Linked DNA regions of Homo sapiens: region 1 is linked to region 2. The links come from fine-mapping of genetic effects on gene expression. A gene starts in region 2. The other region holds a variant in brackets. All regions are shown on one strand. Distances are from middle to middle. Region 1 has its middle 32 kb from the start of CD14. Region 2 holds the start of APBB3 (amyloid beta precursor protein binding family B member 3).

Region 1 (5,375 bases), 37 kb before region 2:
ATTGGGAAAGTAAAATGGTGCAGCTACTCTGGAAACAGCTAGCAGTTCCTCAAAAAGTTAAACATATAATTACCATATGACCCATCAATTCTACTCCTTAGTATATACTCAAGAGAAATGAAAACATATATCTACACAGAAACTTGCACACAAATGTTTATAGCAGCAGTATTCATAATAACCGAATGGTGAAAATAACCCAAATGCTCATCAACAGATGATGGATAAATAAATTGTGATATGAACATTTAATGGAATATTATACAGCAAAAAAAAACCCCAAATATTGATACATGCCACAACTTGGATGAACTTTAAACTAATGCTAAGTAAAAGAAGTCAGACACTGGCCAGGCACAGTGGCTCACACTTGTGATCCCAGCACTTTCGGAGGCCGAGGCGGGCAGATCACCTGAGGTCAGGAGTTTGAGACCAACCTGGCCAACATGGTGTAATCCTGTTTCTACTAAAAATACAAAAATTAGCTGAGTGTGGTGACGAGCACCTGTAATCTCAGCTACTTGGAAGGCTGAGGCAGGAAAAGCGCTTGAACCTGGGAGGTGCAGGTTGCAGTGAGCCAAGATCACGTCACTGCACTCCAGCCTGGGCAATGGAGTGAAACTCTGCTTCAAAAATAAAATAAAATAAAATAAAATAATAAAATAAAATAAGCCAAACACTGAAAGTCACATGTTGTTATTGTTTGCCTTCTTTTATATAATATATCCAGAATAGGCAAATTCATAAAGACAGAAAACTGCTTAGTGGTCACCTGGGGAGGGGAGAGAGAGGAATGGGAAGTGATTACTTAATGGGTATGGCATGTGTTTTGGGCATGATGGAAAAGTTTTGAAACTAGAAAGAAGTGATGGTTGCACAACAGTGCGAATACACTAAATACCACTGAATCATACACTTTTTTTTTTTTGAGACAGAATTTCACTCTTGTTTCCCAGGCTGGAGTGCAGCGGCACTATCTCGGCTCACCCTGGCTAATTTTTGTATTATTAGTAGAGACGGGGTTTCACCATGTGGCCAGGCTAGTCTCAAACTCCTGACCTCAGGTGATCCGCCCACCTTGGCCTCCCAAAGTGCTGGGATTACAGGCGTGAGCCACCACGCATGGCCATTTTTCTTTTCTTTTTTCCTTTCCTTTTTTTTTGTGTGTGTGTGTTTGTGTGTGTGTGTGAGAGAGACAGAGTTTTGCTCTATGGCCAAGGCTGGAGTGCAGTGGCATGATGTTGGCTCACCGTAACCTCCACCTCCCAGGTTCAAGCGATTCTCCTGCCTCAGCCTCCCAAGTAGCTGGGATTATAGGTGTGTGCCACCACGCCTGGCTAATTTTTTGTATTTTTGTAGAGATGGGGTTTGGCTATGTTGGTTAGGCTGGTCTCAAACTCCTGACCTCAAGTGATCCACGTGCCTCAGCCTCTGAAAAGTGCTGGGATTACAGGTGTGAGCCACCACTCCCAGCCACACTTTAAAATGACTAATTATATGTAACATGAATTTCACCTCAATTAAGAAATTCAAAAAGACGAAATGAAACTGTAAACAGTTACAAACTGCTCTAAGTACTATAAGTGGGATGTGTAGGGCGGTGTTGAGGCCTAGCAAATGCCTGGCTCTGACTGGACAGCAGTGAGGTCATCACAGAGGTGACACTGGAGCTGGGTTTTGAGGGAGATGTAGGAATTCGGGAGATTGCAAGTGTAGGAAGTGAGAGAAAAGAGGTTCTTTTTTAAAAAGGAAGAGAAGGAACCATGCAGAGGGAACAGAATAGGCAAAGCCTTGGAGGTGTGAGTAAGCAATTCTCATACTGAGTACTAGAAAAGTTGGAGACCTAGTGTATATGGAGAATAGAAATAGTAGGAAAGGAAGGCAGAAGCCACATGATGAGGGGTTTGGCAGTCCATGTTGATGCCTTTGGACAAGGAATTAAGCAGGATTTATTTCTTGGGGGAACAGCATGGGCAACATCTTGTTGCCTAAATTAAACTTTCTATATGTTGACCATATTTTATTGTATTCGCTTAAAAATATTCATGAATATACTGCTTAGTATGTGCCAGGCACTGTCCTAAAGCTTATTATTAACTCACTTAATCTCATCAACAGTTGTTCTCAAAGTCTAGACTCCACTGGAATCTCCTAGAAGTCTTAAAACACAGAAACCAGAGTTTCTGATTCAACAGGTATGGTGACGCCTGAAATCTGCCTTTTAATTCAATTATCAGGAGATGCTGAGACTGCTGGCACAGGGAATACACTTTGAGAAACACTGCTTTACGTCATCCTTATAAGGAAGGGAGCATTATATTACCATAGTTCTGAGATTGTGTCACTGCACCCCAGCCTGGGTGACAGAACGAGACTCTGTCTCAAAAAAATAAATGGAATAAGGCTGACGTGAATGGGGTCAAAACAACGGTCTTAGAGCAGTACTCTGAGAGGTTGAGGTGGACCAAAGGGAGCCCCTGCTGTTGTCCCAACATGAAGGGCCCTGGACAAATATGATTTATCCAACCTTGTTTGGAGGAATTCAAGAAACCTTACCTTGAATCACCTGGGGCAATAGTCCCATAACCAAATCAGTATAAGGATTGATGACAAATGGGTCAGCTTCCTTTGGTTCACTACCACCACCACCCCATACCCCCACAGCCATTGCAGACCCAAGGCCTTATGCACATCAGTGAGAAAAACTGTCAGGGTG[G/C]AAAAGGGACATTTCTAGGACTCCTTAACATAGGAGCCACATACACTGTAGTCCCCTGCTAGTGAGCCCTCACTAAGACCACAATTAGAACAAAAGTGTATAGAAATCAAGGGTGGATGGGATTAAGGGATAAAAATAGAGTGTTTAGATGGGATTTATGTGAAGGGGTTGTAGCTCCTATACACGGATGTTTTAAGAGAATGAATATTATGTCTTAATGGGGCACACTTTCCCTACCTAGTATTTATAAAATGAAAATCTGTTGGTGAAGTCCTAGTGGAAGCTTCAGTCAGGGATGCAAGGGTTGATGAAACTAAAGTGACAAAAGTTTGGATTAAAATTCGTATGTTTGAACAGTTTGTATGTGTGAATAGCATCTCTTTTCGTTGAATGTAGTATGGGGATATTGTATCTGACCGTGGAACATTTCCCCTCCCTAGTATTATAAACAGAAGGCACATAAATTCACCCTTTGGGGCCAGGCCCACTGGTTCACACCTGTAATCCCAGCACTTTTGAGAGGCTGAGGCAGGTGGATCATGAGGTCAGGAGCTTGAGACCAGGCTGGCCAAAATGACGAAACCCTGTCTCTACTAAAAATACAAAAATTATCCGGGCACAGTGGCGGGTGCCTGTAACCCTGCTACTCAGGAGGCTGAGGCAGGAGAATCACTTGAACTCGGGAGGCGAAGGTTGCAGTGAGCCGAGATCGCGCCACTGTACTCCAGCCTGAGTGACAGAGCAAGACTCTGTCTCAAAAAAAAAAAAAACAAAACAAATTCACCCTATGGGTAATATTAATTGGATGTGCTAAAATGGGAACAAATAAGATGGCCCAAGTCACACTGATTGTTAATTTCAAACAGTATAAAATAGAAGCTGAAGTGCCAGTAGGGAAAATTCTCTGTACAATAGCCCTGTGTGAAGTATAGGCTGGAGCTTATGGCAAAAGTCTGTGAGTGCCACCCAGCAATAACTGCTGGGACTTTGGACCAGAGAATTCCCATTTGCAGGGAAATTACTTATTTCTTATCAGACATTAAGTAAAACTTCCACTATAACTGAAAGATATAAAATAATCTTAAACATAAAATACCCATAACATTTTGGATGATGTTGGAGAAACCATTCAATGGGGAGAGAAGTGCCTGGAAGAGCTCCATAACAAAATGGAAGTTGTTTCTGATGGAACATACCACTGGGGGAATGCCAGGAGATACCATATTTCCAAGCAGATAGACTTTTTCCCCTAGAATTGACTTTTGAACCACCTGAGGAGCTGCCAGATTTTATTTTATTTTATTTTATTTTATTTTATTTTATATTTTATTTGAGATGGAGCCTTGCTCTGTCACCCAGGCTGGAGTGCAGTGTTGCGATCTTGGCTCACTGCTCACTGTAACCTCCGCCTCCCAGGTTCCAGCGATTCTCCTGCCTCAGCCTCCCGACTAGCTGGGATTACAGGTGTGCACCACCATGCCCAGCTAATTTTTATATTTTTAGTAGAGATGGGGTTTCCCCATGTTGACCAGGTTGGTCTCAAACTCCTGACCTCAGGTGATCCGCCCTCTTCGGCCTCCCAAAGTGCTGGGATTATAGGCGTGAGCCACAGCACCTGGCTGGAGCTGTCAGATTCTACTGCTACCTGGAGAGTGTCCTATAAACAGCAAAGAGCTTCTTGGTTTATAATCGCAGTTCCAAGGTGAATGTGCAGCATCTTGTTTGGAAGGCTAAGAAGGTAAAAACAACTTACCTTATAGGCTATTGCATTCTGTTTGCCACTACATTTGGGTTTTTACTGATTCATGGGTGGTGCATACTGACGTGATCATATGGTCAGGCTGAAGAGCAATAGAAAACTGCCCTCTTAAAGGGATCCCCTAAGAAAATCACTATGGAAATTTGAGGGATAGATTAAAGTAGGACATATCAATGCCCAATAGAAGAATCACTTTCCTGGATTGGAAGGTGATTGGCACCAGTGAGTGAATTTCCCAGTGTGCTCACTTGAGGTGGCCACCTGGGTCCATGGAATGAGTGGACCTAAGAATACTGTGGCAATGTAGAGATCTAGACATATTCCTCTTGCACCCTTTGAAGCACAAAATGCCAACAAGAACTGTTTTGTCTGCCAGCAAGAGAGACAGAGAATGCAGGTGGCCCTGGGGCACATTCCCCCGTTGGAAGGCCTCACACATAGCTGGTAGATAGATTACATTGAACAAATGCTGGCAGCCCTGGGGGCTACAAATGGGGTCTGACAGGAATAGACACTTACTTTGGTTTTTTGGTTTTTTTGTTTTTGAGATGGAGTCTTGGTCTGTCACCCAGGCTGGAGTGCAGTGGTGTGATCTCCGCTCACTGCTACCTCCTCCTCCTGGGTTCAAGTGATTCTCCTGTCTCAGCCTCCCGAGTAGCTGGGATTACAGTCGCCTGCCACCACACCTGACTAATTCTTTTGTAGTTTTAATAGAGACTGGGTTTCACCATGTTGACCAGGCTGGTCTCAAAATTTGACCTCAGGTGATCCATCTGCCTTGGCCTCCCAAAGTGCTGGGATTACGGGCGTAAGCCACTGCACCCGGCCAGGAATAGACACTTACTTTGGACTGGGCTTTGCACACCTAGTGGTAGATACGAATGCTGAAAATACTATTAA
Region 2 (5,307 bases):
AGGATGAAGGTGGCAGGAAAGTTGGAGATAGCAAATGGATGACAGCTGGGGAATCCAGATAAAGTGTCTCCACCTGAAGGCTGAGCTGCTCATCCTGCCTCTTCCATGGCACCTAGAGCTAGTCGGGCCCCTTGCGTAGCAACTGCAAATAGTCCCTTAATGTCTTCTCCACGTTGGGCACAGCATATGCCTGAGCCGCATAGATGCCAGTGCAGGTGCCCACAGCAAAGCCCAATACTGCTGATGCCCTCAGTTTGGCCACCACATAGCCAGCCAGGAATCCCTTGAGGAACGGGGAGGACAACAGCGAGCCATCCTGCAGAGAAAAATGCAGAAGGAAACTTAGCTAGGCTCCTTCCTGACTGTCCAGGGGCTACTCAAGCTGGGATTAGAGCATTCCACCACCAGCTCCTCCTCACCCTGGACAACCGTGGTATTTTCTCCAGATTTTTCCCAAGGTTCTGGGGCCAGAAAAAGAACCAAGCAGTTCTGATCACACAATCTCAGAACCCTGGGGTCAGAAAGCTCCAACCATAGAACTCCACCGCCACACAAGGTCAGAGATGCCCCTAGCCCTGCCGGTTTCTCCAGCCTCATTTCCTAGCATGCTCCCCAACTACTGTAGCCAAATGGACCTCCTTTCACCCCTCATGTTTATAATGCTACTTCCTACCACAAGGCCTTTACATATGCTGTTCTGCCTGGAATGTTCTTTCCTCCCCTCTTCACCTACTTAACCACTACTTAAGATATTAGTTCATGTGCCATTCAGAAAAATTGTCCTTAGGGTGACTGAGAATAGGCCCTCAATAATCACTTGCTGAAGAAATCTCTACCATCCATTTAACACTCTCAAGAGCATGTTGGGCAATAAAGCCTAAGGCAGGGGTGGGGTGGGACAGTCCTTACCTGGCCCACTCCACTGTTGACTTCGTCTTCTACACGCCGCTGCAGGCTTTCCAGCTGGTTCTTGAGAAATGCCAGGTCCTTAAGCTTAGGCAGAGAATCCTAGGACAAGCGAGAGGCTGGCTCCAGCAGTCTGACTAAGCCCCACCCCTTGCTCAATTCCATCAGAAGCTGGGAATTGGGAGGGGATGGGGTGAGCCAGAAAGACCTTTTCCTATAAAAGCTTCCTGAGATGGCAGTGGCAAAGAAAGACAAGCATTGAAAAGCACAGAATTCAAATGAGGGCCAGGAAGGGACTGACAGATGGGATCTGAACCAGTAACTTACATCAACCTTGACAAGAATTTTATATAGCAAGCAGTATGTAGGAAAGGCAGGAGGGACAGCTAGGGACCTTTAATTAGGTCCATCAGGAAACCACTACTGACTCCATTATGAGCTCCTTGAAAGTCGTGACCAGTCTGTCTTGGCTACTATGTTCTAGTGCCTGACATTTAGTAAATGTGTGGGTAATGCTGAGCTTCTAGACCAATGGTGAGTAATGGACCGAGGCAGTTTCCTGGACAATTTTATTGTCTTGGTTCCTGGATGGGCTTTACCTCTTTCTTCCCAAGGACATCCCAAACTGAATGTGAGTGACTGGATGTGACTGAGAATGACAAAAAAGACTGTCGGCAAGTGTGTAAGTAAATGGACTGAGTGATTTTGATCGCATATAAGTATGAAATTCAGAATGTATGCAAAGGAGTGTTTGAATGAGGGTGGTGTGAGTGTCCGTGTGATTGGAAACATCGTGTCACTGGGAAGAAAATTTCGGGAGCTAGGGAATGGGGTAAAGTGAGGAGTGTTTAAGGGTGAATGTTTTTGAGTCTGTGCTAGTAACGGGTTCGTGATGGTTCCCAGGAGGGGACATCTGGGGGATCCACGGCTCCTCCCGCCTCGCCGAATGCTCTCCCCACACCACTCCACACTGTTGAGGCAGTTGACAGGAGCCGCAGAAGAAACAAGGGACATCCTCACTCCTGAGCCGCTCCAGAGTCGCTTCTCCCCGGAACTAAAAAGGTCAAGGAGAGTGAAGACCACGCCCGGCTGCAGATCACCCCCACGGCCACTCACCTTGTCATCCGCCATCTTCCCCGCCGAACTTGTTGCGCAGGCGCATCCCCGCCTCCCTCGTGCCGACTGCCCCGGCCATCTTTACGGAGGGCGAAGGCACTTCCGGAGCATTTTTGGAAAGGGGGAGGTGCTTTCCTAGTGGCCAAGTACGCCTCTCTCAGATACTTCCACGTGACCCCCTCCCGTCGAGTCTCAGGCTGCGTGTGAGCGCACTCACGACCGGGGCGCGATGATCTCACTCGTGCGCGAGTGCGCGCGGCGCATGTTCGGCGTGTCGGTCTTCAGGCGCCTGATGAGTTCATAGTTGGGCGGTGGTGTCAGCGGTTTCGCTGGCGTTCGTGGGCCTCCCCCGGACCCACACACGGAAACACGCAACCATTCGGGGATCCAGACGCCCGTTTACACGCACCACCCCTGGGCGGGCTGTGCGGCTCAGGCCCTCCCCCGGGACCGGCCCGTGTCCCGCCCCGTGTCCCGCCCCGTATTTGTGCGGCGCCAGCTGGCCCCGCAGCCTGCGGCGCAGAGAGGCTGGGCTTGCAGGCGCAGTAGCTCCAGAGGTCGCGCTGGGCTGAGAGTGCGGGCCGGCAGAGGCTGGCGGGGAGCAGCCGGGGTTATGCTGGGCAAGGATTACATGCTGGCCATCATTCTGGTCAACTGCGATGGTGTGCACGGAGGGGCCCGGTGGGAAGACCAGGAGCTGAGGGAGGACGAGGGAATCCGAAAGGCTACTCTGGGGCTCAAAGACGGTGGGGGATACCTCTCTGTGTAGGGACCAGGGGGCGAATGAACCCGGTCTTTACATGTGATGTCTTCAAGATTGAGGAGCCTGGATCTTCAGCCTAAGAACTGACCCATTTTGGGGATGGAGAGGGGATTATGACAGCATGTTATTCTGAACTCACAAATCATATGCTCCCTCCTCTCTAATCCGGTGTTCCTGTAGATGACTTGTGGGGGGACCACAGTCTGGAGGTGGAGGCTGGCCTGCCTCCTGGCTGGAGGAAGATCCACGATGCTGCAGGTACTTACTACTGGCATGTACCCAGCGGTAGCACCCAGTGGCAGCGCCCAACCTGGGAACTAGGAGATGCAGAGGACCCAGGCACGGTAGGTAGAGTGTGAGGAGGAGGTCTGAGCCCATGTGTGGACCTAGGTCTGCTGTTAAACTGACTAACTCCCACTCTACAGGGAACGGAGGGGATCTGGGGACTGCGGCCCCCCAAAGGGAGATCCTTCTCCAGCCTGGAGAGTTCACTGGACCGGAGGTAACGGGTGGCCCAGGCAAAATGAAAGGCTTGGGGTTCCATGGTGTTCAAAAATGCAGCTGGACCCATGGTCTGCTTTCCAGCCCAGGTTCTGGATTCTGTCACATGTTTTGGGTTCTGTTACGTTCTTGGCTCTGTCCCAGGTTCTTAACTGTCAGTATTTTGAGTTTTATCCCTTGTTCTAAGCTCTTGTTTGTAGCTACATGTTTTTCATATTCTTGGTCCTAACCTATCATGTTCTAGACCTTGGCCATTAAGTCCTCTGTTCTAGGGTCTCTTGTCCCACTTTGGGGTTCTGGTCCACATATTGGACCCTGTTCTATTTTGTGACTTTTATTTTTTATTTTTTGAGATGGAGTCTCACTCTGTCATCCAGGCTGGAGTGCAGTGGCACGATCTTGGCTCACTGCAACCTCCGCCTCCCAGGTTCAAGTCATTCTCCTGCCTCAGCCTCCTGAGTAGCTGAAACTACAGGCACATGCCACCATGCCCAGCTAATGTTTGTATTTTTAGTAGATATGGGGTTTCACCATGTTGGCCAGGATGGTCTCGATATCCTGACCTCATGATCCACCCGTCTCAGCCTCCCAAAGTGTTGGGATTACAGGCGTGAGCCACCACTGCACCTAGCCTTGTGACTTTTATTCTATGTCCTGTGTCTGGGTCCTATGTCCTGAATTTTCCCTCAAATTCTGAGTCACACTTTATGTTACGTTAATATGTCCTGGGCTCTACCCTGCTCTGGTTTTATATTTCTGGTGCTATATTCTGGGTCTTGCCCCTCATCCTGTGCTTATCAAGTTGTCTAGGCCTCACCAGTGTCCCTACTGTAGGAAATGTGGTCCTCTTAACAGCTCTGCTCTGTTTCAGTAACTCTCTGTCCTGGTATGGTGGGGAATCCTACATCCAGAGCATGGAGCCAGGGGCTAAGGTAGTGACTTGGGCCTGAGGGCATTGGGAGGTCCCAAGGGAAAGACAAGGGTGGGATTGGACTGAACAGAGGTGATCAAGGGTGAAGACAGGGAGTATGTATTGTGGCACCTGCCACCCTACTCCATCCTTATTAATTCCTGTCCCTTCCCCCAACCTGTCAGTGCTTTGCAGTCCGCTCTCTGGGCTGGGTAGAGGTACCTGAAGAGGACCTGGCACCGGGGAAGAGCAGTATTGCAGTCAATAACTGTATCCAGCAGCTGGCCCAGACCCGCAGCCGGAGCCAGCCTCCAGATGGTGCCTGGGGTGAGGTGAGTTGGCTGGGCCCTTTAATGGTTTGGGCCCAGGGCCCAGCAGAGGTAGCTGTCCCTGAATTTCCTATTTCTCATGGCAATGACCTTTATCTGAGCTCTGGGCTGACCTCTGTCCTTGGCAGGGCCAGAACATGCTGATGATCCTGAAGAAGGATGCCATGAGCCTAGTGAATCCCCTGGACCACAGTCTGATCCACTGCCAGCCTCTGGTGCACATCCGTGTGTGGGGCGTGGGGAGCTCCAAGGGCCGGTGAGGATGCCTACATCCCCCAAGCAAGAGCTACTTCTCCCTCCCGGCTGCAGGCTGTGATCCCCACTGATGCTGATCCCCAGTACTTGAACCCCTGGACACAGATCCTCTGATGTGGACCCAGGACTGCTTCCCCTGCCTGGTCCAGCCCTGGTTGGGGAGGGTGGGCCCAGCTCAGCAGGGACAGTTTGGGGAGAGTCCGAGAGGCTGGGCTGATTCCCTTCTGTGCTCCCACATGCTTCCGGAACAGTGACAGGTGAGTGAAAACCAGGTATCCTGAGCCCCATCCCTGATGTCCCTACTCCATCCCTGCTATATCCCTAGCCTGACTTTCCAGCCTCCTGCAGGCTCCTGCCTCTAACCAGCTTCTACCCCAGCCCCATCTCTGCCCCTGCTAGGGACTTCGCTTTTGTGGCAAGTGACAAAGATAGCTGTATGCTCAAGTGCCATGTGTTTTGCTGTGATGTCCCTGCCAAGGCCATTGCCAGTGCCCTACATGGGCTTTGTGCCCAGGTAAGTGTCAGGG

What was found. PIP is the estimated chance that this variant, and not a neighbour inherited with it, causes the effect. A credible set is the group of variants that fine-mapping cannot tell apart.
Region 1: its variant is the best candidate, but not a certain one, in a credible set for the expression of APBB3 in whole blood (TOPMed, PIP 0.66).

What each region holds. Positions count from the first base shown.
Region 1 is chr5:140,598,581-140,603,955 of GRCh38, reverse strand. It overlaps a transcript of TMCO6 not described here. Among named protein-coding and RNA genes, the nearest start is that of CD14, 32 kb to the left of the region's middle. The variant G/C (reference allele first, on the strand shown) is at 2,717.
Region 2 is chr5:140,561,574-140,566,880 of GRCh38, reverse strand. APBB3 (amyloid beta precursor protein binding family B member 3) reads left to right here and starts at 2,283. Exons shown (of 13, transcript NM_133173.3): 1 at 2,283-2,684; 2 at 2,966-3,129; 3 at 3,211-3,287; 4 at 4,158-4,218; 5 at 4,382-4,528; 6 at 4,654-4,781; 7 at 5,032-5,037; 8 at 5,180-5,294. The coding sequence starts at 2,636. SLC35A4 (solute carrier family 35 member A4) reads right to left here and starts at 2,053. Exons shown (of 3, transcript NM_080670.4): 1 at 2,023-2,053; 2 at 910-1,008; 3 at 1-316. LOC131768270 (SLC35A4 upstream open reading frame protein) reads right to left here and starts at 2,053. Exons shown (of 3, transcript NM_001394034.2): 1 at 2,023-2,053; 2 at 910-1,008; 3 at 1-316. The coding sequence starts at 2,037. The coding sequence ends at 119. MIR6831 (microRNA 6831) reads left to right here and starts at 3,130; the gene lies at 3,130-3,210. RefSeq lists enhancers at 1,976-2,095, 1,851-2,457, 3,066-3,125 and a silencer at 2,416-2,595.